Regions from separate parts of the Homo sapiens genome. Here region 1 is linked to region 2. Evidence: fine-mapped expression QTL. A gene starts in region 2. The other region holds a variant in brackets. All regions are shown on one strand. Distances are from middle to middle.

Region 1 (11,924 bases), 43 kb before region 2:
CCATGAGAAGGGACTGGGACCCATGTCAGTTCTCACAGCCTCAAACCTTGATGAGGTGGGTGTCCCGCTGCTGGAAAAGCTAGTGGCCTTTGTCATGGAAATGAAAAACACCTGGCCCAGGAGTGAGCAACTGAAGAAGGAACCAGGGAAGATGTAGCAGTTACAGGCCCAACTGTTGCCCCTCACCAACAAGGTACTCAGCAGATAAACAACAACATGTGTGAACTACAAAAGTACTTCCCCTGATTATGCACACTGAAACACAGACTGGTTACTGTTCATTTCCACCCTCCTGATCTTGCATAGAAATATCTCTGGTGGTCCACCTTAACTGGAAACATACAGGGAAGGACATTCTGGAAATTGCAGTTCAGCCTAGCCAAGGTGACATAATACAAAATATAACAACTGATCCCCACTTTTGAGAATGCATAAGTAAAGGATAGGCCTAGAATTCATGTCTGTACAACTTGTATGCTGCATTGGTCATGCTAATCTAGGTTTTGAGCTTCTTTTTCCTTCGGAGCAGGAAGCATTACTTGGCAACATTAGGATGACCTACTGACTGTTTTGGTGTAAGAAAATGTTTCTTAGGTTTGATGAGAACGTCCATGCCCCTCATTTCAAGTGCAGAGACTTTGCTTTTACTTTATTTTATTTTTTATTTTTTTGAGATGGAGTCTCCCTCTGCCGCCCAGGCTGGAGTACAATGGCGCAATCTCAGCTCACTGCAACCAACGTCCATCTCCCAGGTTCAAGCAATTCTCCTGCCTCAGCCTCCTGAGTAGCTGAGATTACAGACGTGCCACCACACCCAGCTAATAAGTAGCTGCCACCATGCCCAGCTTTTTAGTAGAGATGGGGTTTCACCGTGTTAGTCAGGCTGGTCAAACTCCTGACCTCAAGCGATCCGCCTGCCTCGGCCTCCCAAAGTGCTGCGATTACAGGCGTGAGCCACCACGCCAGGGTGAGACTTTGCTTTTAAAGAGATGGTGTCGTCATATAACAGCCTTCCTATAAAAGGGATTAGAGAAGCCAGACACAAAAGGTCACATATTGTATGATTCCATTTATATAAAATATCTGGAATAGGTAAATCCATTCAGACAGAAAGCAGATTGGTGGTTCCAGAGGCTGAGGGTGGGGAGGGATAGGGAGTAACTGCTTAATGGGTGTAGGCGTTCCTTTTGGGAATATGAAAGTATTTTGCAACAAGATAGAGGTGGTGGCACAACATTCTGAATGTACTGATGAATTGTTCACTTTAAAATGGCTAATTTTATGTTATGTGGATTTCACCTGAAAAAATTTTATTGGTTTCTTGAACACAAAAAGAAGGAGTTGTAAACTAACTCAAGTAGTGCTAAGATCTGTAAGATATTCTAGTCTGCAAAAAAAACCCCTAGAAATCCAGAATCTTCTGTTGGGAAAAGGAGGGTCTCATACTGCTCTAGTGTAGTACTCCTAGAAATAGTGGAAGGAACTCATGTCCTGATACGCAGCTCAGGAAAACCTCTAAGTGGGGCTGGCCTCTTTAAGACTTAGAGACTGTAATCTGGTAGTTAAGGAGTCATAATCACAAGTTTCTTGGTAATTCTCCTTAGAAATGTAGTTCTTACCTTCCAGGATCAGAAGTACTGAGGAGCAGAGCCAATCTTCTCTGTTTGGTGATAGATATATGTAGATGGGTTTATATGACTTTGAGTTTAGTTTGTAAAATCTAGATGTCCCTGCCCTAGACAGGGGACAATGATATTTAGTTTGGGTTATTTTGTACCCTGTGGAGAACAGAGTTTAGTGAAAGGGAAGCATTTCTTTGAAATGTGGTTCTATGTGTTCAGTCCTATTTCCAAAACGCAGGAGGGAATGGAAGGGAAAACGTCCTGGCCCAAGAATACCTGTAAAACTCAATTGCTGTTGTAAATTCATCTGCCGAAAACAGTGCCTGTAACCTGTGTGGAGAAACAATACTTTGGGTTTCTGTACAGGTTTTTCATGAGTCCAGGATTCATGGGCAGCCAGTGATTAGGAATCCTCAAACACTCACACTCTAGAGTGTGAATTCAAGAGAGGTGAATTCCAAATTCAGAATCTGGGAGTAGAGAGGTGCTGAAGCCCATCATCATGAGTGCTTGTGACCTGGGCACACACACCATCATACACACACCTCCTACATAGACCCCTCTTCTACCGGGACAGGGAGCCAAATTGATTAGTGTCTATCACTGCAGGAAATAGTGGCTTGGAAATGGACATGCTCCAGGACCTTGAGTCCCTGCAGTTTGAGTATGGGGTTCCAGAGGAAGATCGTATCTGGCTGTATTTGCAGGGCCGTTCTCGGGGACTGATGATCGAGGCTTGTGCCCATGCAACCTTCTTCTGCAAACTATTATATAATTTGAGGTAAGCCGAGTATCCAAATTCAGGAAGATGGACAAGAATCTCACTGCTGAGAATTCAAATGTCTTAAATTTTTTTTATATTGGAGGGTAAGTTTGGCTGGTGGATTGTCATCCTATCTTTTCCAACCCAGAGTCAATGACTCCTGGTCTAAAAGGACAGGAAAATCTATACCAGGGTCCCCTGGCTGTGGTTACATAATAAAGCATGGATTAGTAGTGATTACCTTTTAGTGGATGGATTGATTAAATGATCATTTATTCATCCATTCACTCAGTCATCATGACCACCAGCTTGCCCTCCACAGTTGCTAATGTCTAGCCATTCCTTATCTATTGGCAAGGAATGCAAATGGAATCAGTTCTTTCTTTTGGGGCTGAGGTAATAGTGGAATGCTCCCTTACAGGAAGCTACCCGGGACTTCACAGGCCCTGTGCCAGTGACTTCCTTGAAACCAGGAATATTGATTTGCAGAAAAGCTGTCAGTCCAGTCTTGATTCTGATATCTTTCTACAATATGGCTTCAGACACTTAAATAGGAAATGTGTGTGAAGCAGGTACCTATAATTAGGCTTCTGAATTCTGCAACTCCAGGTCACTCTGGGAGCATATGTCACCTCCTCACTCTACTTCTTAGTTTTTCTCTGAAGTTAGATTAATTCCTAGATGGTGGGACCAAATTTGAATTGAACATGTTTATAGATACAGCACATGTCCAAGGAGGCAGGCTTCTCAGTGAATTTACTGACTGGCTTACTGATAAGGATGCATAAACCTATTGGTGGTACTCAATATGACTGGGAGAAAACAATATATGAAACTTGCAGGTGGCATTTTATATTTGGAAGGATCAGGCACTAAGAGAAAATGCTCTTTCAACCAGGAGAGAAGGCTTAAATAGAGAGTGACTTATGTTGCTTAGAAGCAAAATCCAGAGCTTTAAGACACTGGTTTTTACAGAAATACAGAACAAATATAAGGCTGTCATATAGCAACGAAAGTATACCTTATGTATTCAGAAGTCTGACTTTGTTAATCTTGCGCCAAGGAAACACATCCAGCACCAACAGTAAGTGAACCTCTGGAAATAGTGGTCTGAAATCTTCATCCTTAGTTTCTCAGTTCTGTTCTTTTTTGTTTTGTTTTTGTAGTTTAAAGTTGTACCCTGAATGAACACTGTTTTGTTTTTATAAACCATTTATGTGTATAAGTCATAACCTTCTTAAAAAGCCAAGTTATCTGGTTTCTCAAGTCTGCAGATTTGAAATAGCAAACTAGAAAGAGTGGGTGTATCGTAGGAAAGGAATGCACTCACATCTAATAGCAATAAAAATTGACATCTGTCTCAGATTGGTATCAGTAAGATGAAGAAATAGGAAGCTCCAGACTCTGTAACCTCGAGACACTAACTTAACAACAATATATGGTCCAAAAAGCCTTTATGAAACCTCCAGCAAGCACTTAAGAAATTGTAGTGCCCTGGAGAGGTACAAATCCAAGAACAGCTGCATTTACAGGGGTAAGAAAAGCCATTGCAGTTCACCTAAGATATCCCTTTCCTCAAGCCAGCCTCAGGTGATCAGGAGAAAATGCCTAATTTGTGGCTTCTCCTTTGGAGGGAAAAAGAAAAATGGAATGTTTGTCCACTGTTCTGCCTTTTTGGGGGCTGCCTGAGGGATTGGTTTCTGTCTCACATGACTTGGAGCACTGATGAGGAACCAACATATTTTGGATGAAAACAAAGGATCACTCAGTGGCTTGTTGCAGTACAGAGAACCTGCAGTACTGCAGATAGATACCAAAGTGAGGAAAAGATTATCAGCCCCTGCAATAGAAACAGGCAAAACTCTTTAATTGGGAAATTCCAAACTCAAGCCCAGAGAAGACACATTCCTGGAAAGATTTGACAGGCCCCAGAATCTCTAGCTGGGCTGATTGGGAAAGATCTTCCCCTGTATGGTGCCAGTCTGTAAAGATTGGGAGAGGCCTGACTGTTTTTTCAAATGCCCAAATTCCACCAAAAATTAAAAAGGCAATATTGCTCAACCATAAGAACAAACTACTGCAGAAACCAGCCCTAAAGAAACAGATCTGTGAGTTACCTAACAAAGAATTCAAAGTAATAATCTTAAAGAGGCTCAATGAGCTACAAAACACAGAAAAACAACTAGGCTGGGCAAAGTTTACAGATTACAGATTACAGGCCTGTAATTTGTAATTACAAATTACAAATTACAAATTACAGGCCTGTAATCCCAGCAGTTTGGGATGCTGAGGTGGGAGGATTATTTGAGCCCAGGAGTTTGAGACCAGCCTGGGCAACATAGTGAGACCCTGTCTCTGAAAAAACAAAACAAAACAAAAAAAAACTGATGAAATCAGGAAAACAATACATGAATAAAATAATATCATAAAGAGAAACTAAGAACCAAAATTTGGAGCTGGAGAGCACAATAATTGAATTGAAACAACTCACTAGAGTGGTTCAACATTAGACTTGATCACACAGAAGAAAGAATCAGCAAATTTGAAGACCAGTTATTTGAAATTATGAAATCAGAAGAGCAAAAAGAAAAGAAAAGTGAAGAAAATCTAGAGGACTTACAGGATACTATCAAGTGGGTCAATATATGCCTTATGGGAATGTCAGAAGGAGAAGAGAGGCAGAGCAAGGTGCAAAGAGCTTATTTGAAGAAATAATGGCCAAAAACATCCCAGATCTGAGGAAGGAAATGGACATCCAAATTCAAGAAGCTCAGAGGACTCCAATTTGGATGAACCCAAAGAGGACCACACAGAGACACGTTATAATCAAACCATCAAAAGTCAAAGACAAAGAATACTGAAAGCTGCAAAGAAAAAGCAACTTATCACATGCAAGGGAGTTCCCAGAAGACTATTGGTGGCTTCTCAGCAGAAACATTACAGGCCAGAAGGGAGTGCTTGATATATTCAAAGTGCTGAAAGGGGAAAGAAAAAAAAAACCTGTTGGTCAGGTGTGGTGGCTCACGCCTGTAATCCCAGCACTTTGGGAGGCTGAGGGGGGCGGATCACGATGTCAGGACATCGAGACCATCCTGGCTAACATGGTGAAAAACCGTCTCTACTAAAAATACAAAAAATTAGCCGGGCGTGGTGGCGGGCGCCTATAGTCCCAGCTACTTGGGAGGCTGAGGCAGGAGAATGGCGTGAACCCGGGAGGCGGAGGTAGCAGTGAGCCACGATTGCACCACTGCAGTCCAGCCTGGGCGAAAGAGCGAGACTCTGTCTCAAAAAAAAAAAAAAAAAAAAGGAAAAAGAAAAAAAAAAACCTGTCAACCAAGAATACTATCTCTTGCAAACCTGTGCTTCAAAAACTAAGGAGAAGCTGGGCATGGTGGCTCACATCTGTGACCCCAGCACTTTGGGAGGCCGAGGCGGGCAGATCTCCTGAGGTCAGGAGTTCAAGACCAGCCTGGCCAACGTGGTGAAACCCTGTCTCTACTAAAAATACAAAAATTAGCTGGGCATGGTGGCAGGTACCTGTAATCCCAGATACTTGGGAGGCTGAGGCAGGAGAATTGCTTGAACCCAGGGAGGCAGAGGTTGCAGTGATCTGAGATTGCACCACTGCACTTCAGCCTGGGTGACAATAGCAAAACTCTATCTCAAGAAAAAAAAAAAAAAAGAGAAAGAAAGAGCTTCCCAGATAAACAACAACAAAAAACCTCATCACTCCTGGACCTGCCTTACAACTAATGCTGAAGGGAATCCTTAAGTTGAAATGAAAACATGCTAGTCAACAACACAAAAGTATACAAAAATAAAAAGCTCTCTGGCAAAGGTGAATATATAGCCATATACATAATACTGTGATGGGTGGCACATAAATCATTTTTAATTGTGGTATAGGATTTAAAGATAAAAGCTGGCCAAGTGTGATGGCTCACACCTGTAATCTCAGCACTTTGGGAGGCCAAGGCAGGAGAATTGCTTGGGCTTAGGTGTTTGAGACTAGCCTGGGCAACATAGGGAGACAACATCTCTTAAAAAAAAAAACAATTAGCTGGGCATAGTGGTACACACCTGTGGTCTCAGGTACGTGGTAGTCTGATGTGGGAGGATTGCTTGAGCCTGGAAAGTAGAGGCTGCAGTGAGCAATGATCATGTCACTGCACTCTAACCTGGGTGACAGAGCGAGACCCTGTCTCATAAATAGATAAATAAAATGTATATAAAAATGTAAATATAGAAATAATAAAATGTATAAAATAAAATTATAAATATCAATAAGTATAAATATAAATAATAAAAATTAAAAATAGGCTTGGCACGGTGGCTTACGCCTGTAATCCAGCACTTTGGGAGGCTAAGGCAGGCGGATCGCTTGATTCCAGAAGTTCGAGACCAACCTAGGCAATGTGGTAAAACCCTGTCTCTACTAGAAATAACAAAAATTAGCCAAGTATGATGGTGTGTGCCTGTAGTCCCAGCTACCTGGGAGGCTGAGGCGGGAGGATCACCTGAGCCCAGGAGATCAAGGCTGAAGTGAGCTGTGTTCACGCCACTGTACTCTAGCCTGGGCCACAGGGTGAGACCCTGTCTCAAAAATAAAAATACTAAAAAAAAACCTATTACTATAAAACCATGCTAATGGATACAAAATATCCAAAAGATATAATTCATGAGATAAATAACAAAAAGCAGGGGTAGGGGAAGATGAAGTAGAGTTTTTGTATATGATTGACATTATCATCTTAAAATAGGTTGTTACAACTATTTTTATGATTTTTATGCAATTTCCTACGGTAACTACAAAGAAAATACCAACAACAAAAAGAAAATAATGTCATTACAAAAAAAAAAA[AT/T]CAGTGAAATACAAAAGAAGGCAGCAAGAGAGGAAAAGAAGAACAAAACTGCAACACAGAGAAAAAAACAAACTGGCAGTGATAAGTCCTTCCCTATCAGTAATTATTTTAAATGTAAGTGGATTAAACCCATCAATCAAAAGATACCGAGTGGCTGAATGGATAAAAAACAAAAACAAAAACAAGATCCAACGTATATCTTGTCTTCAAGAGACTCACTTTAGATGTTAGGACACATATAGGCTGAAAGTCAGACCATAGAGAAAGATAATTCCACGTAAATGGTAACCAAAAAAGAACAGGAGTAGTCATACTTGTATCAGACAAAATAGGTTTTAAGTCAAAAACTGTCATGAGAGACAAAGAATGACATGATGATAAAAAGACCAATTCACCAGGAAGACACAACAATTATATATGTACTTAACATCAGAACATCCACATATATGAGGCAAATATTGACATAACTGAAGGTATACAATTATAGTAGGAGATTTTAATACCCAACTTTCAATAATGGATAGAACAACCAGACAAAAGGTTAGTAAGGAAACAGAAGACTTGAACAACATGACACACCAATTAGAACCTAATGGACAAGTACATAACACTCCACTCAGCAGCAGAATACACGTTCTTTTCAAGTGCACATGGAACATTTTCCAGGATAGATCACGTTAGGTCACAAAATAAGTCCTAACAAATTTAAGAAGATTCAAATCATACCAACCGTCTTTTTTTTTTTTTTTTGACCATAATAGAATGATACTAGAAATAGCAGAAGAAAAACTAGAAAGTTCACAAATATGTGGAAGTCAACACAACTCTTGAACAACCAATGAATCAAACAGGAAATCACAAGGAAAATTTGAAAATATCTTAAGTGAAAATGAAAACAACATACCAAAACTTATGGGTTGCAACAAAAGCAGTACTATGAGCAAACTTTATAGGGGTAAATGCCTACGTTAAAAATAAGAAAGGGCCGCCCCTACTGGGAGGTGAGGAGCCCCTCTGCCCGGCCAGCCGCCCCGTCCGGGAGGGAGGTGGGGGGGTCAGCCCCCCGCCCGGCCAGCCGCCCTGTCCGGGAGGTGAGGGGCGCCTCTGCCCGGCCGCCCCTACTGGGAAGTGAGGAGCCCCTCTGCCCAGCCACCACCCCGTCTGGGAGGTGTACCCAACAGCTCATTGAGAACGGGCCATGATGACAATGGCGGTTTTGTGGAATAGAAAGGGGGGAAGGGTGGGGAAAAGATTGAGAAATCGGATGGTTGCCGTGTCTGTGTAGAAAGAGGTAGACATGGGAGACTTTTCATTTTGTTCTGTACTAAGAAAAATTCTTCTGCCTTGGGATCCTGTTGATCGGTGACCTTACCCCCAACCCTGTGCTCTCTGAAACATGTGCTGTATCCACTCAGGGTTGAATGGATTAAGGGCGGTGCAAGATGTGCTTTGTTAAACAGATGCTTGAAGGCAGCATGCTCCTTAAGAGTCATCACCACTCCCTAATCTCAAGTACCCAGGGACACAAACACTGTGGAAGGCCGCAAGGTCCTCTGCCTAGGAAAACCAGAGACCTTTGTTCACTTGTTTATCTGCTGACCTTCCCACGCTATTGTCCTATGACCCTGTAGATTGCTGTCTACAGATGCACTGCAATCCTTATCAAAATCCCAATGACATTTTTCATGAAGATAGAAAAAAAATCCAAAAATTGATATGGATGAAGCTTGAGGACATTATGCTAAGTGAAATTAGCCATGTACAAAAAGACAATACTGCATAATTCTACTTATATGAGGTATCTAAAGTAGTGGAACAGAAAGTAGAATGGTAGTTTCCAGGGGCTGGGGAGAGAGAAAAATTGTATAGAGTTTCAGGTCGGGTGTGGTGGCTCATGCCTATAATCCCAGCACTTTGGGAGGCGGAGGTGGGCGGATCACTTGAAGTGGGGAGTTCGAGACCAGCCTGGCCAACATGGAGAACCTCATCTCTACTAAAAATACAAAAATTAGCTGGGCGTGGGGTGTGGTGACACGCGCCTGTAATCCCAGCTAGTCAGTAGGCTGAGGCAGAGAATTGCTTGAATGTGAGAGGTGGAGGTTGCAGTGAGCTGAGATTGTGCCGCAGCACTCCAGCTCAGGCAATGGAGGGAGACTGTCTCGAAAAAAAAAAAAAAGCATATAGAGTTCCAGTTTTGCAAGATGGAAAGGTTCTAAAGAGCTGTTGCACAACTATATCTATATGTCTGTCTGTCTGTCTATCTATCTATCTATCTATCTATCTATCTATCTATCTATCTATCTATATGTATTTTCTTTTTTTGAGATCAAGTCTTGCTCTATTGCCCAGGCTGGAGTGCAGTAGTGGATCTTGGCTCACTGCAACCTCCACCTCCCGGGTTCAAGAGATTCTCCTGCCTCAGCCTTCTGAGTAGCAGAGACTACAGGTTTACACCATCATGCTGGGCTAATTTTTATATTTTTAATAGAGATGGGGTTTCACCATGTTGGCCAGGCTGGTCTTAAACTTTTGACCTCAAGTGATCCACACGCCTTGGCCTCCCAAAGTGCTGGGATTACAGGCATCAGCTACCATGCCTAGCCACAATGTGCATATAATTAACACAACTGTACTGTGCACTTTAAAAATGGTTATGATGGTGAAGTTCATGGTGTGTGTGTGTGTGTGTGTGTGTGTGTGTGTGTGTGTTTTCCTGAGACAGGGTCTTGCTCTGTCACTCAGGCTGGAGTACAGTGGCACGAGCACAGCTCACTGCAGCCTCAAACTCCTGGGCTCAAGCAATCCTCCCACCTCAGCCTCCTGGGTAGCTGGGACTACAGGTGTGCACCACCATACCTGGCTAATTCTTGTATTTTTTGTAGAGACGAGGTCTTACATGTTGCCCAGGCTGGTCTCAAACTCCTGAGCTCAAGTGATCTGCCTGCCTTGGCCTCTCAAAGTGCTGGGATTATAGATGTGAGCCACCGTACCCAGCATGTGTTTTTTAACCACAATAAAAAAAAAAATTGAAAGCTGTCTGCACAGAAACAAACAAAACATGAGGGGACTGGCCCACAATGTGTTATAGACATTACAGTATGCTGTATAATAGTGGCTGTTCACAGTGGTGTCCTGAGCCAGTGAAATGATTAAATATTCAGACTGTTTAACCAGGCAAGCATAATACATGTAACAAAGTATGTTCATTTAAAACATTTTAAATTTTGGTCCCTTGAAAAGGGTTATACTTTTGTTTCTGGAAAATTAACTCAGGAGGAACATTTCATTCCCTAGTGAGGCTGGATAAATGACACACAGTTGAAATGTCTTATCTCCGAAGTACTTAAGGTGCCACCAAGCACCTTAAATGACAAAGCAGAAAATGTCAGAGAATGACAGTTAAGAAGAACTAGGCCGGGTGCGGTGGCTCTCGCCTGTAATCCCAGCACTTTGGGAGGCCAACACGGGTGGATCACGAGGTCAGGAGATGGAGACCATCCTGGCTAATACAGTGAAACCCTGTTTCTACTAAAAATACAAAAAATTAGCCGGGAGTGGTGGCAGGCACCTGTAGTCCCAGCTACTCGGGAGACAGGCAGGAGAATGGCGTGAACCTGGGAGGCGGAGCTTGCGGTGAGTCAAGATCACCCCATTGCACTCTAACCTGGGCGACAAAGCAAGACTCTGTCTCAAAAAAAAAAAAAAAAAAGAAAAACTAGTGTGTGCATGTATTTATGTACGTGTCTGTGTGTTCATTCTCCAGAGCATCATTAAATAAGAATCAAAGTTCCAGACATCTCTCAATTGGCTCCCTTAATTCAGCCACTCCTGAAGAGTTTAAGGTGGGCATCATTGGAGGTGGCCACCTTGGGAAGCAGCTGGCTGGCACACTGCTGCAGCTTGGCCCCATCCCTGCTGAAAGCCTGCGGATCTCCACTCGGAGGCCAGAGACTCTGGGTGAGGAGCAGTGTGTGGTAGAAAGGGGGCTTGGTTGTGCTGTGTAGGTGTCAACAAAGCCATTTTGAAAGGGTCCTCCAAAGAGGAATCCTTGCATACAGCGTGTGGAGTTCTCAGCTTGCTAGCCCTAAGAAAGGTTAGAAGCATGGCCTTTTCTCCTGTTCTTTAAAGCGACTTTTTTTCTCCATGTATGTGTTTTATATCCATGTCTCCTCCCTGTGCCCTTGGTGGTGAAGTATCTTTCCAGATCTTTGATACAGGGAAGCTTTCCATACAGAGTTCAGATCTTCTAACTGAATCAGTTAGGGTCTGGTTGGGTGTTAAACAGTTCCAGGCATTTGCAGTTGGCCTTATATTTTTAAAAATGACATTTACTGACTTTAAAAAAATGTTTTGTGGTCGGGCGCGGTGGCTCACGCCTGTAATCACAGCACTTTGGGAGGCCAAGGCGGGCAGATGACGAGGTCAAGAGATTGAGACCATCCTGGCCAACATAGTGAAACCCTGTCTCTATTAAAAATACAAAAATTAGCTGGGCATGATGGTGCGTGCCTGTAGTCCCAGCTACTCAGGAGGCTGACGCAGGAGAATTGCTTGAACCCAGGAGGCAGAGGTTGCAGTGAGCTGAGATCACACCACTGCACTCCAGCCTGGAGATAGAGTAAGACTCCGTCTCAAAAAAAAAAAAAAAAAAGTTTTGTAATGATTCCATTTATGGTG
Region 2 (11,924 bases):
ACTAAAAATACAAAAATTAGCTGGGCGTGGTGCCACGCGCCTGTAGTCCCAGCTACTCGGGAGGCTGAGGCAGGAAAATCGCTTGAACCCGGGAGGTGGAGGTTGCAATGAGCTGAGATCGCACCACTGCACTCCAGCCTGGGCAACGGAGTGAGACTCGGTCTCAAAAAAAAAAAACCCCAAAAAAACAACAAGAAGAAAAAATTAGCTGGGCATGGTTGCGCACACCTGTAGTCCCAGCTACTTGGGGGGCTGAGGCAGGAGAATCGCTTAAACCAGGAGATGGAGGTTGAAGTGAGCCAAGGTTACACCACTGCACTCCAGCCTGGGTGACAGAGCGAGACCCTGTCTCAAAAAAAACAAAAACAAAGACAAAAAACAGAAAAAACGTATTATCTGAATAGCTTGTTAAGTTGTTTCACCTTTCTGGGCCCCAGTTTTCTATAAAATGGGAATTAGTGAAATAATACATATAAGAGGCCCCAAACACAGTAAGCTCTCAGCAAAGCATAGCTATTAGCAGAATTTAAGAAAGTAAACGCTCAGTTAGGACTGTATGTTTAATAATTTAAAAAGTTTCGTTATATCTTCTTGCTAGTAAAAGGACTCAGGTATTAACAAGCATAGTTTTCTTATTTCTAAACCATATGACTTATGGAATTTTAGGGTTATAAGGCCTGTTGAAGAGTCATCTAGGGAAGAGATTCCAGGGCCTACCCAGCCCTAATGAATCAAAATCTCTGGAGGATGAAGCCTAGGAATGTATCTTTTTCAAAAAATCTCATTTGATTCTGAAGACGACCCAAGTTTGGAAACCACTGAGGTGGTACATTTCTGGGCATGGGTGTGCTGAGCAAAACCATGGTTATGCCAAGAACTGTCCATTCTTGGAGGGTTATTGGGGTGGGGTACTAAAGGAGAGGTTACACGTGAGATTGTTTGTGATGCTTTGTAAATTGCAAAGCACTACAAATGGAGGGTACTGTTATGCAAAGGAGAATAATCATGAACTGTTGGTGCTGGAGATTTTAGAAAATTGATGCTCAGAGTGGTTAATGTAGCTTGTTTCAAAGTTAGGCAGCAAAGCAGGCAAAATACATATGGTGTTATATAAGTGCCAAATGGGTGTCAGAGACACAAAATGTCATGAGAACTTGGGATGGGGGCTACTGTGGGCTGGGAATGTTACAAAAGACTTCTTGGGGAGATGCAAATGAGGAACTGGTCTTGAAGGATGATTAAGATTCATATTAGTAATACAGAGGATGGGGGAACTGAGCGAAGACATAGAGAGAAGAACGCACCAGGCAGGTTTGCGAAGGTGTTAGACCTGGTGGTAGGCTGGAGCACAAAATTCATGTGGAGGAGTGGTAGGGGAGAGAACTTGTGGAGGGCCCTAAATTCTAAACTAGGGAGTGGAGACTATCTTGGTAAGCAGAAGGGATCCAAAGAAGGTTTTTGAATAGTACATAAGTAGGTGGAAAGTGAGAGCATAAAAGCAGGGCCCTTGAATCCAAAGGGTCCATTGAGACAGGCTAAAAGCGGGAGGCCACTGTGGTGTTCTAGGCATGAGGCCATAAGGTCTGAAAAGTGGGAATGAAGAAAGCCAGACGGTGTAAGTGCCACAGGAGCAATGGACAGTTCTTGGAATATTTATGGGGATCAAAGGAGAAAGAGGAGGCAACCACCGTGAGCCTGAGGAACTGGAATTATGATGACACCATTGACAGAAGTGGGAGGCCAGGCTGGAGGAAAAAAAGGTTGGTTTGAGACAGATGGTGGCACTGTTAACAGTGCTCTGTAGGGAAACTTTGGACACAACTCACCTTCATGTCCTCAAAGTTTGTTATCCCCATCTGAGGGAGGTTTGAGCAGTTGACGTGAATGAGTTTTCGGCCACTGATGAAGTTTGTGATAAAACACTCCTGTCAATACAACAAGGACATCACTTAAAAAATGTACTGCAAATAGAAGGAAGAAAGGGAGGGAAGGGGGAGGAAGGGAAGAAGTCGTGTTTGTTCTACCCTGAGAAAAAAATATTATTTTGTTTTTTCTTTTTTAGAGACAGGGTCTCACTCTGTCATCCAGGCGGGAGTGCAGTGCTGCAGTCATAGATCACTGCAGCCTCGAACTCCTGGACTCAAGCAGTCCTCCTGCCCCAGCCTCCTGAGTAGCTTAAATTTACTTTCTATCCCAATAACGGCACAATTTTTCCATGTAAGCTCTTTATTAAATTTTACACTGCTCTTTAACTGTTTTTTTGGGCATGGTACAACCAGTGCTTCTTCATGTCTCAATTACATTTGTAAGTATAGTAGGTACAAAAGGTTTCAGATCTTGTATTGTTTTGTGGTAGCCTTAAACCTAGTTGGCATCAGTGAAACAAGAGGTTTACACTGACTTTTTACTAAAACTAGTTTTGGTTAACTGGCTAACTTGAATTAATACACTTAAGTGCTCATGATACAGGTGACATATTTGGGGCAGACACTTTAAAAAGTAATAGCACAAGTTCAAAGCAAGGGAGCTGCCACTAAAATAACTTGACAAAGTACCAAAAAGCCTACCTTGAACAAAGTCTACTTAAAAATACAGTTTTCTATGAAAGGAGGTCTAAGGCCGGGCACGGTGGCTCACGCCTGTAATCCCAGCACTTTGGGAGGCTGAGGCTGGCGGATCACGAGGTCAGGAGATGGAGACCATCCTGGCTAACACAGTGAAACCCCGTCTCTACTAAAAATACAAAAAATTAGCCGCGCATGGTGGCGGGCGCCTGTAGTCCCAGTCCCAGCTACTCAGGAGGTTGAGGCAGGAGAATGGCGTGAACCTGGGGAAGGTGGAGCTTGCAGTGAGCCGAGATCGTGCCACTGCACTCCAACCTTGGCAAGAGCGAGATTGTGTCTCAAAAAAAAAAAAAGAAAGGAGGTCTATATACTCTTCTTGGTCTTTTATTCAAGGATTGCAGAGAAGTGTAATCACTGGAAGAGGAAAAACAAACCGATGTGACCCTCCCTTCCTCTCCCAAAATACAAATATACATCAGTGGCAAGGCCAAAATTAAAATCCAAGTTACCTCTACCACAGTCTAGGACTTTTTGATACTCCTTCCGGTAAAGAGGTAAGAGCTCAGGCCAAGTTAGAAGGAATAAGAAGTAGACGGATGACAGCATGTGATTTCAAAACATCTTATTTTTGTATACCTTGTATTGAGGGAAGCCTAGCTGGCTAATCCACTCTGCAACTTCCTCTGGATCCCAATTAAGATGCTCAAATTGTAACTCAGTCCCTTTTTCTGGCTGGGTTTCGTCATCTTCAGAGACCCGTTCCTTCAACTCTTGGGACAAATCTACAACTTCCTTTTCATGAACGAACTCACTTAATTCTGTCTGAGACTCTGAGGGATCTGAGTATGAGCATTCTTCACTGACATTAAGCAATTTTTGGAGTGGTTGCAAAAACTCATAATGTGTACCAATTGATTCTTCACTTTCTCTGAGAGATCCTAATGCGTAATATTCTTTTCTAAATTTGTCACTTAGTGACAACTTTCCTCTTTTAGGCTCACGGTGCTCTAGCTCATCGTTTCCTACAGAATACTTAGACTTTATTGGTTCTGGCCTGTCTTCCTTGGAAAATTCTACATGTGTCTCCCTTGGTTTGGTTTCATCTGGTAACTCTAGAATTTTCTCAGTTGGCTTTGTTTGTGTTTTCTCTTCAACTTGTGGGTTGATCTCCTGTGGTAGCACTGGACCAGTCTCCTCTGGTGGCTGTGGATTTTTTTTCTCATTTGACTTTCTTATCTCTTCTGGACTTTCTGGTTTCATCATTTCTGATTGTTCTAGAATTGTTTCCTCATTTGTTTTTCTTGATTCTTCCTCAGGAAACTCTAATTTGATCTCTTCTAGTGGCTCAGGAACGTTCTCATCAGTAGACTTTCTTGGCTTGTGGTCTGGAAAGTCTGGTTTAGTCCGCTCAGGTAGTTCTGTCCCTTTCTCCTCAGTTGCCTTTCTTTGCATCTCCTCTGGAACCTCTGGTTGAGTCTCTTCTGGAGGCTCTAGACCTGCCTCCTCACTAGACTTTCTTGGTTCCTTCTCCAGAAATTCCAGTCTAGCCTGCTCGGGTGGCTCTGTCCTTTTCTTCTCAGTTGACTCTCTTTGTGTCTCCTCTGGAGTCTCTGGTTTGGTCATCTTTGGTGGCTGAAGATCTGTCTCTTCAAGTGATTCTCCTAGTTTCTCACTTGGAAAATCTTGTTTGGTCTGCTCTGGAGGCTCTAGACCTGTCTCTTCATGTTGCACTCTAAGTGATTCCTCTGGAACCCCCGGTTCAGTCTCCTCCTCTAGTAATTCTAAATTTCTCTCTCTGACTGTGGCCCCCGAAACCTCAGACATGGTTTCCGTTGGTGGCACTGGATCTGGATCTGTTTCCATAGCTGACTCTAGGAACACATCCTCTGTAACATTTGGTTTAGCCTCCTCTGGTGGCTCTAGGTCTGACTCTTTATGCGTTTCATCCATAGGGGCCTCCAAATCTTTGAAAAACTCTCCCATCTCTCTGGATGTTTCCGACTTTACCTCTTGGTGTATCCCTGGTTCAGTTTCGCTTGGTACGTCTCTCTTGGACTCCTTGGCAATTCCTTCCTGGGACGTCCCGCCAGGTTTCAGCTGCACGTTCTTAGCACTGTCTGGCTCCCCCTCTTTGAAGTCCTCTTCCTCGGTCTCTGGCTGTGGCTCTTGGTAAATCTCTGCTGGTAGCTTCGAGTCTGCCTTTGCCATGGTGTCTGGTTCGGCATTTTCATACAATTTATGAAGTCCAGGCAGTTCAGGCCTCTCAGGCTCCAGCTCTCCATCTTCATCTGGGCCGGAATCATAATCCTCCGGGACTTCAGCCATTTGCAGCTTAGCAGACGCGCCGCGGCTTCCTAGCAACCCCAACTTCCGATAGCGTCTCTATGGATACCACGATTTCCGGCAGTGTCTTCCTGACTCTTCCCCAGGTTTTGTTTGTTCTTTCAAGCCCTGACTTTAAAAATCGTCTGTCACAAGCACGCAGTAACCCTCCCTGCGGCCTCATCGCCAGCCTCAGCGGGCCAGAGCTCCTGTGGCCGCCCCTGGGTCAGCTAGCTTTTCAAGCGGCCGCCGCGCCGCTTCTTCCGGCCTGCAGGCTGCGCTCGGCTGTGCTCGGCGCTCGCTCGGCCTTCGGCTGTTTCCGGAGCCACTCGCGGCTGGCAGCGGAGAGCTCCGTGCGCGGGCTGCAGATGTCTGACCTGCAGGCGGCTGAGGGGCCGGGCTCCTGGAGCCCCACAGCCCGCCCAGGGTCGGCTGGCGGCGTCGGGGACTGCCAGGGAGTGGAGGGGAGCCAGGCGGCCGCCTCAGGTACGCAAGGCCGGGGCGCTGGCGGGTGGGTGCCGCCCGGCCTCAGGGCCCCGCACCACGGCGCGAGCCTCCGCCGCGCTCTGTCCTGGGCTTCCCCGCGGAGCGGACCCACCTCGGCAGCCCCTTCGCGCGCGGGGCCCCTTCCCCGCCGCTGCCACCACCCGGGCCCTGGGCTCGAGGTTATTTTCTACTCACTCCTGTTTCGAAATGCCTTGATTCCTGCCCCGCTTCCTTTCTGAGATCTGCCCAAATGGTAGTGACAGGGTGGCTCTGCCCCTGGCGCCTCTTCAGCTTCAGTTTCAGCTTCAGCCGGGGTTCGGGTCCCACCTCCGTCTGCTAATCACATCTAGACTGCCGACCCGAACCCTACTGGCCTCGCCGCCCCCTGCTTCTGGCTCCCCACCCTATCCCCATCTCAGTCCCCTGCCCCAGCCTTACCACGCGCCTCTCGGCCCCCACCCGGGTTGGCAGCCTTGCCTTCCTCTGCCAGAAGCCCACTGCGCCCTAGCCTTCCTGCACATAGGCCCCCTGGCCTTGCTGCCATCCTCTCCATCGCTTAGAGTGGGAAAAATGAAAAGCAGAGTTGAAATAGGTAGTGTCTGGGGTCTTTTGCTTGAACACAGTAGCCAAAGCAAGAGCAGGAATTAAAAATTTGGCCTACCTCCCTCATTCTCAAGACCCTCATCCTCTTCTTGTCCAGGACGACGTCTCCATTTCTACTAACGCGAGTTCCTCCGTGTGTATTATTTCAGTGTCCAAAGACAAAAGAGTCCATCCATCACACTTTCTTCTTTCAGCCTCCTGAACACCACACACGATGCAACTGAAAGGATGCTCTTTTGAAATACGAAAGGGTAGAGGGGAGAGAACTTGTCTTATTTAAGTAGCAAATATAAATTAATTTTCTAGGTCTGAAATTAAAATAGACACCATAAAGTATAATGGTTGAGGCACTACTGTGGAGCCAGGGTGCCTGGATTGGAGTCTGAAACGTCAGTTTCCTCATCTGTAAAATGTGATTACTAAAAATATCTGCCTCATAGGATTATTGTGAGGATTACTTGAGCTGCTTTGTCTAAGGCATTTGGGGTATAGTCCATGGTACACACTATACTCGTCTCAACCATTGTGACAGTAAGGTCTCTTTTTGTTCAGTTGAACTTCCTGTGCCGCCAGAGGTGTTCTTGGATGTATGGCTTCCAACATGGTGCCTTTTTCTGTCTTCTACTCTGATCCCAAGTATCTTCCCTCTCATAATGCTGCCTTATTCAAACACACACACAACTCACCCAGCTCTTTCCCATGATTTTATATTCTTTTACTTTAAAACACCTGACAAATTTTGCCTTTTTTTCTTACGAACTCTGCTTTGTATTAAATTAAAAATCGTTGGCATATATTTAACATAGCAGTAGAAATTCTAAGCATAATGTCTAAAAGACTAAGCAAGTAAACACAGAAAGGTAAGTCTTATAACACTTGTCCCTTGCATGCGCCAGTATTTACAAATTAAGCATGTTTTTACTTCCCCTTTAGGTTCTCATGTGTTTATGGCAAACGTACCCACGCGTTTTAGATAGATGAGTGTGTTTTTTTTTCCCCCTGACATCTAATTCATTCCTGCATTCACTTCCTCCCAGGACATTGGTAGAGATGCTTACTTTCCTTCCTCTTACCCTCAGAATGCAGGGTGATAATTTTTTTTTTTAATGTCATGTAGGGGTTTATTATAGTAGCCCAGAGCAAGCTCTTCCTCTTGAGGTAGGATTTGTTGCTAATAAAATAATAGTAATGATAACCTACAGATATTGAATGCTTATTCTGTGCCAGAGGTGGAAAAAAATTTATATTTTCTGATTTAGTCATGTCAACAATCATTTTCTTCCCATTTTACAGAGGAACAAACTACAGCTGAGAAAGGTTAACTTACCTGTTCAAGTTAGCGCAAGTTTTTACTGTCTGGATGAAATTGTCATCTTGTTATGATGAAGTCTATAATTGTTTGTTTTTATTGGCCATGAATCAAGTATTGGTACTCGCAGACAGGTTATGGTCTCTGTCCTCAAGGTGTTTTCAGTTTGATGAGATGAGAGATCCATTTCAGGGAGAAACAATTAACAATTCAAAACATTATATAATTGGGCGTCTTTTATTACAATTCTTTATCTACTAAGAAACCTGCTTGGAGTTAGGAACGGAATCTCTCTTGCTTGTTTATTTATCTAGAGCCCTTGATGTTGTGTTTTAGAGGTTTCGCAAATATTTGCTGAGTTTGATGGTGAGAGAAAGTCTGAATGCAGAGATCTGGATGAGCATCTAATGAATGTGAAGAATTAGGGTTGAGATAACCAAGAATGTTCCTTGGGTTAGAGCAATGGTTTTCAACCAGGTACGATTTTGTATCCCCAGGGCATGGCAATGTTTGGAAACATTTTTGCTCGTCACAACTGGTGGCAGCTATTGCTGACATCTAGTGAGGATAGGCTAGGGATGTTTGCTAAACATCCTGCAAGGCACAGGGCAATCCCCATAACAAGGAGGTATCTGGCTCCAGATGTCAGTGGTGCTGCTTTTGGGAACGCTGTGTTAGAGTTAAGCTGGGCTTCCAAAGCAGTGTGGAAATACTATATTTGGCCTGGACCAGAGGCTTGGGCGTAAACCCCAAAAAACTGCTTTAAACTTGGAATTCGTTTGATTGGATCCTTCTGCCATCTTCCTCTAGAAAATGATACAATGAGTAAGCAATAGAGCTCTAAGAAAGAATGAAATTTAATGAGATTTCTCTCACCCTTTCAGAGAGAAAACAGCAGTAAGAAATGGAATTGGATATTCAGGTGTTCTGTTAGTCCATTTGGAATACCTGAGACTGAGTAATTTATAAGAAAAGAGTTTTAATTGGCTCATGGTATTGCAGGGTGTACAGGAAGTGTGGTGTTGGTATCTGTTTCTGGTGAGGGCCTCAAGAAGCTTAGAATCATACTGAAAGGGGGAGCAGGTATGTCACATGGCGAGAGTTGGGAGTGAGAGAGAGAGAGACGGGAGGAGGTCCCAGACTCTTTTAAACAACCATATCTCAGGTGAACTAACTGAGTGAGAACTCACTTATCATCAAGAGGATGATGCCAAATCATTCATGAGGGATTCATCTCCACGATCCAGTCACCTCCCACCAGACCTCACCTCTAACATTGGAAATCACATTTCAGCGTGAGATTTGGAGGGAACAAACATCCAAGCCATATCAGGTATTGTTGAGTTAAGGGTTTTGGTTTTTTGGTGTATCTTATTCCTTCAAAGCAGGAATGTGTCATTATCCAGAATAACCATAACTTGTTTTTTAAAAGTGTTCTCTGCAGAGAATACCTATTGAGTGTCTTCATGTTTGTTAGCTGAGGTTTTGGTGAAAAGGAAGGAAAGGATTTATGTTCTTATGAACTAAGCTCTCCAGTGGTCATGGTGTTCTTATTGTTTTATGCATTGTAATTGTTTTTAATAGTCTTTTATTTGAGGCACCTGGGTTCTTCAGTTCCCCAGAGGAGAGATAAATCATTCTTTAATTATGAAACTATCTGAGGCATACTTGTTGCATCACTTAAAGGCAGGTTTTTTTGTTTTTGTTTTTGTTTTTTTTTTAAGTTTAAAGGAAAATAAAACTCTATTGTGATCCTGAAGTCAGCAGTAGAACTTAGTTTGGTGTGTATGTCCCCCAGAGCTATCAATACATTTAGATGTTGAGGATGGAAACAGGTCAGGTAAACTTGTTCATGGTTCTAAGGTAGAAGTTAGAATATTACAATAAGTCTTTTTGCAGTGATGAAAATATTTCATATCTGTCCCAGCTACTCAGGAGGCTGAGGCAGGAGAATCACTTGAACCCAGGAGGCAGAGGTTGCAGTGAGCCGAGATTGCACCACTGCACTCCAGCCTGGGCGACAGAGGGAGACGCTGTCTCAAAAAAAAAAAAAAAAAAAAAAAAAAAAAAATATATATATATATATATATATATATATATATATATATATATATATAATATCTGTGGCTATTTCAATGTGCATGAATTAAAATTCAAAATTTGGTGGCTACCATGTTGAATGGTAAGAATAATAGGGAGTCAATGACAAACAGCCTTGATGTTTTTTAGTTTTCTATTGTGGTTTTATGTCAAAATGTTAACATTTTGTCTGCCTGTGGCTTTCTTTTTCTTACAGTGGTTGTGTTTTTAGTGTCCAGATAGTCGATTAGTCAGATAGTTGATTATTCATGTCGTGATTCAGTCTAAACAGTATAACCAAAGGTGCACAATCTGAGTGACCTCTCAGGAGCATGTCCCACTCAAGGGCTGAAGAGAAATTGGATCACATGGTCACTAGATTTGGTTGGAACATAAACTCACTTAATTTGTTTTCGTTTAAGCCTCTTGAGTCTGTAACCACATAGCCTGCTTTTAGTTCTTCTGCACTGGAATCTAAAATGACAGGCTAATTATCTCTTTGCAGCCTGTTTACTGAGGGGGAAATCCTCTGAGGCCTGTTCTAAAGAACCCTGACCTGATATTCAAATGCTTTTGAAAAAAACCTGCTTTTTGGTTCTCCTTGTAGGGAAAGTACGAAGTACACAGTAAGTTTGAATCCCTAGCATGATCAGAATGTCTGAAACCAGACCCTTTGGTAATGTAGAAAGAAAATGCACATTTAAAAAGTTGTCAAATATAAAATAAGTTATTTTAAGGAAGTTCCTTTTTTCTCTCTCACCTTTGCTTTAGTGGCCATCAATGATAAATTAAGTTATTGTTAAGCTTCCATTTTTCCTCCTCCGTTCATTGTTTCCGAGATTTCGGCCACTGAGGAACCATGGTAATGACTTTGCCACACTGGAGAATACCGTTACAGTATTAGTTATTTACTATTTTTTCTTGACATTGACATTTAATTGACATTTTGATTGACACTTAAAAGTTTCATTCTAAATAATACCTACGATATTACTAGTTTGATATATCCATTTTTCTTAATATATACTAGAATACATATTTTTAAAAATAAAAAACATTTCCCCACATACCATCTAAATTTGCAAAGTCTGGCCTGATTTCTCTGATCTCTTCTAGGAATACTTTCAGAATTGGCTTATATTTGGCTAATATAATAAAAGCTATACTATAGGAAAATTGGCTTTTTCTTCTGCATAGTGGCTTAAATTTCACTGAAGAACTTCAGGAAACCTAAAAGGCTGTGCTCATAATTCTCTCTCACTGAAACAGCGCTGCATCTCCCACACTTTATACTTCTGGAAATAAAGTTATGTTTTTCTTTCTCCTTTTCTTACTTCCTGCCTCTCTGAATCCAATTATAAGTTGTTTTACCAGTAGTTCTTATGTAATTTAGGGCATTCTTTAAAATTAAAAATAATTTAGGGCATTCCTTTAAAGTTAAAAATCAAAAGCTCAACTCCTTATGGGATGGAAAGAAAAAAAATCAAAAGCATATTTTTTTCCAGTATACATTAAGTTGTTAAAATGCTATGAGAAGTGGTGCTTACCATGTGAAAAATGCTCAACCTAAATCATAATAAGGGAATTGGAAATCCTAACTACACTTGGTAGTTTGCTAACTCACTTTGTTGGTCGGTGTGCAGAAGCAGACACTCTCATGCTTTGCTAATGAGATTGTAAATTGGTACAGATTCTGTGGAGGGCAACTTGTCAATATCCATCAGAATTACAATATATGCCCCTTTGACTCATTCTTTCCAGGAATTATAGATTTATTTATTCTCCTGTTTAATGACATAGATACAAGGTTATTATGGCATTGTTTGTAATGGTAATACATTATGGAATATTCACCCAATGAAATACTAATCAGCTGTAGAAAAGAATGAAGAAGCTTTTCATGTGCAGTTATGGAAAGGTCTTTGAGATATAAGTGGAAAGAACAAAGTACACAGTAGTATGTCCAGCATGCTCCCCCCGACCTTTTTTTTTTTCTGAGACAGAGTCTCGCACTGTTGCCCAGGCTGGAGTGCAATGGCGTGATCTTAGCTCACTGCAACCTCCGCCTCCCGGGTTCAAGCGATTCTCCTGCATCAGCCTCTCAAGTAGCTGGGATTACAGGCACGCACCACCACGCCTAAGCATGCCCATTTTTTGTGTAAAAAAGTGAAAAAGTATACACACACACACACACACACACACTTTTTTTTATATGCATAAAACATCTTTGGAAGACTACACAAAACCAAATAACATTGATTGCTTTTGGAGGTAGGGACTGACATGGGAGGAAATTTTTCACTGTATACTTATATGCTTTTTGAATTTTGAATAATGTGGATAAATTATTCAGAAATAGTTAATAAAAATAGTCTTTAAAATATATAAATATATGTGTACATAGATAGACACACACACAAACTTGGCATGAGACTTCACTATGTCTATATCCTAAATAAGAGCCTTTCTATAGGTCTGTATTCTGTTTCTGCTCATCAGGAACTGACATTTTCTAGACCTTTTTCTCTCAGTGAATTTTTTTATAAAAGGTTATAAGTCTC

Which allele goes with the higher level. Positions count from the first base shown, and alleles are read on the strand shown. Sizes are in standard deviations (SD) of each study's normalised expression.
As copies of AT replace T in region 1, the expression in lymphoblastoid cells of the gene that starts at base 5,214 in region 2 goes down (small effect, 0.37 SD a copy in TwinsUK).

What was found. PIP is the estimated chance that this variant, and not a neighbour inherited with it, causes the effect.
Region 1: its variant is fine-mapped to the expression of TMED8 in lymphoblastoid cells (TwinsUK, PIP 0.95).

What each region holds. Positions count from the first base shown.
Region 1 is chr14:77,413,214-77,425,137 of GRCh38, reverse strand. NOXRED1 (NADP dependent oxidoreductase domain containing 1) reads left to right here and starts at 1,615. Exons shown (of 6, transcript NM_001113475.3): 1 at 1,615-2,403; 2 at 11,011-11,204. The coding sequence starts at 2,249. The variant AT/T (reference allele first, on the strand shown) is at 7,247.
Region 2 is chr14:77,370,384-77,382,307 of GRCh38, reverse strand. It overlaps TMED8 (transmembrane p24 trafficking protein family member 8), which reads left to right and starts at 5,214. Exons shown (of 6, transcript NM_213601.3): 1 at 5,214-5,372. The coding sequence starts at 5,255. It overlaps SAMD15 (sterile alpha motif domain containing 15), which reads right to left and starts at 4,929. Exons shown (of 3, transcript NM_001010860.4): 1 at 3,201-4,929; 2 at 1,827-1,925. The coding sequence starts at 4,889. RefSeq lists silencers at 1,633-1,813, 5,207-5,636, 9,802-9,851 and an enhancer at 4,947-5,156.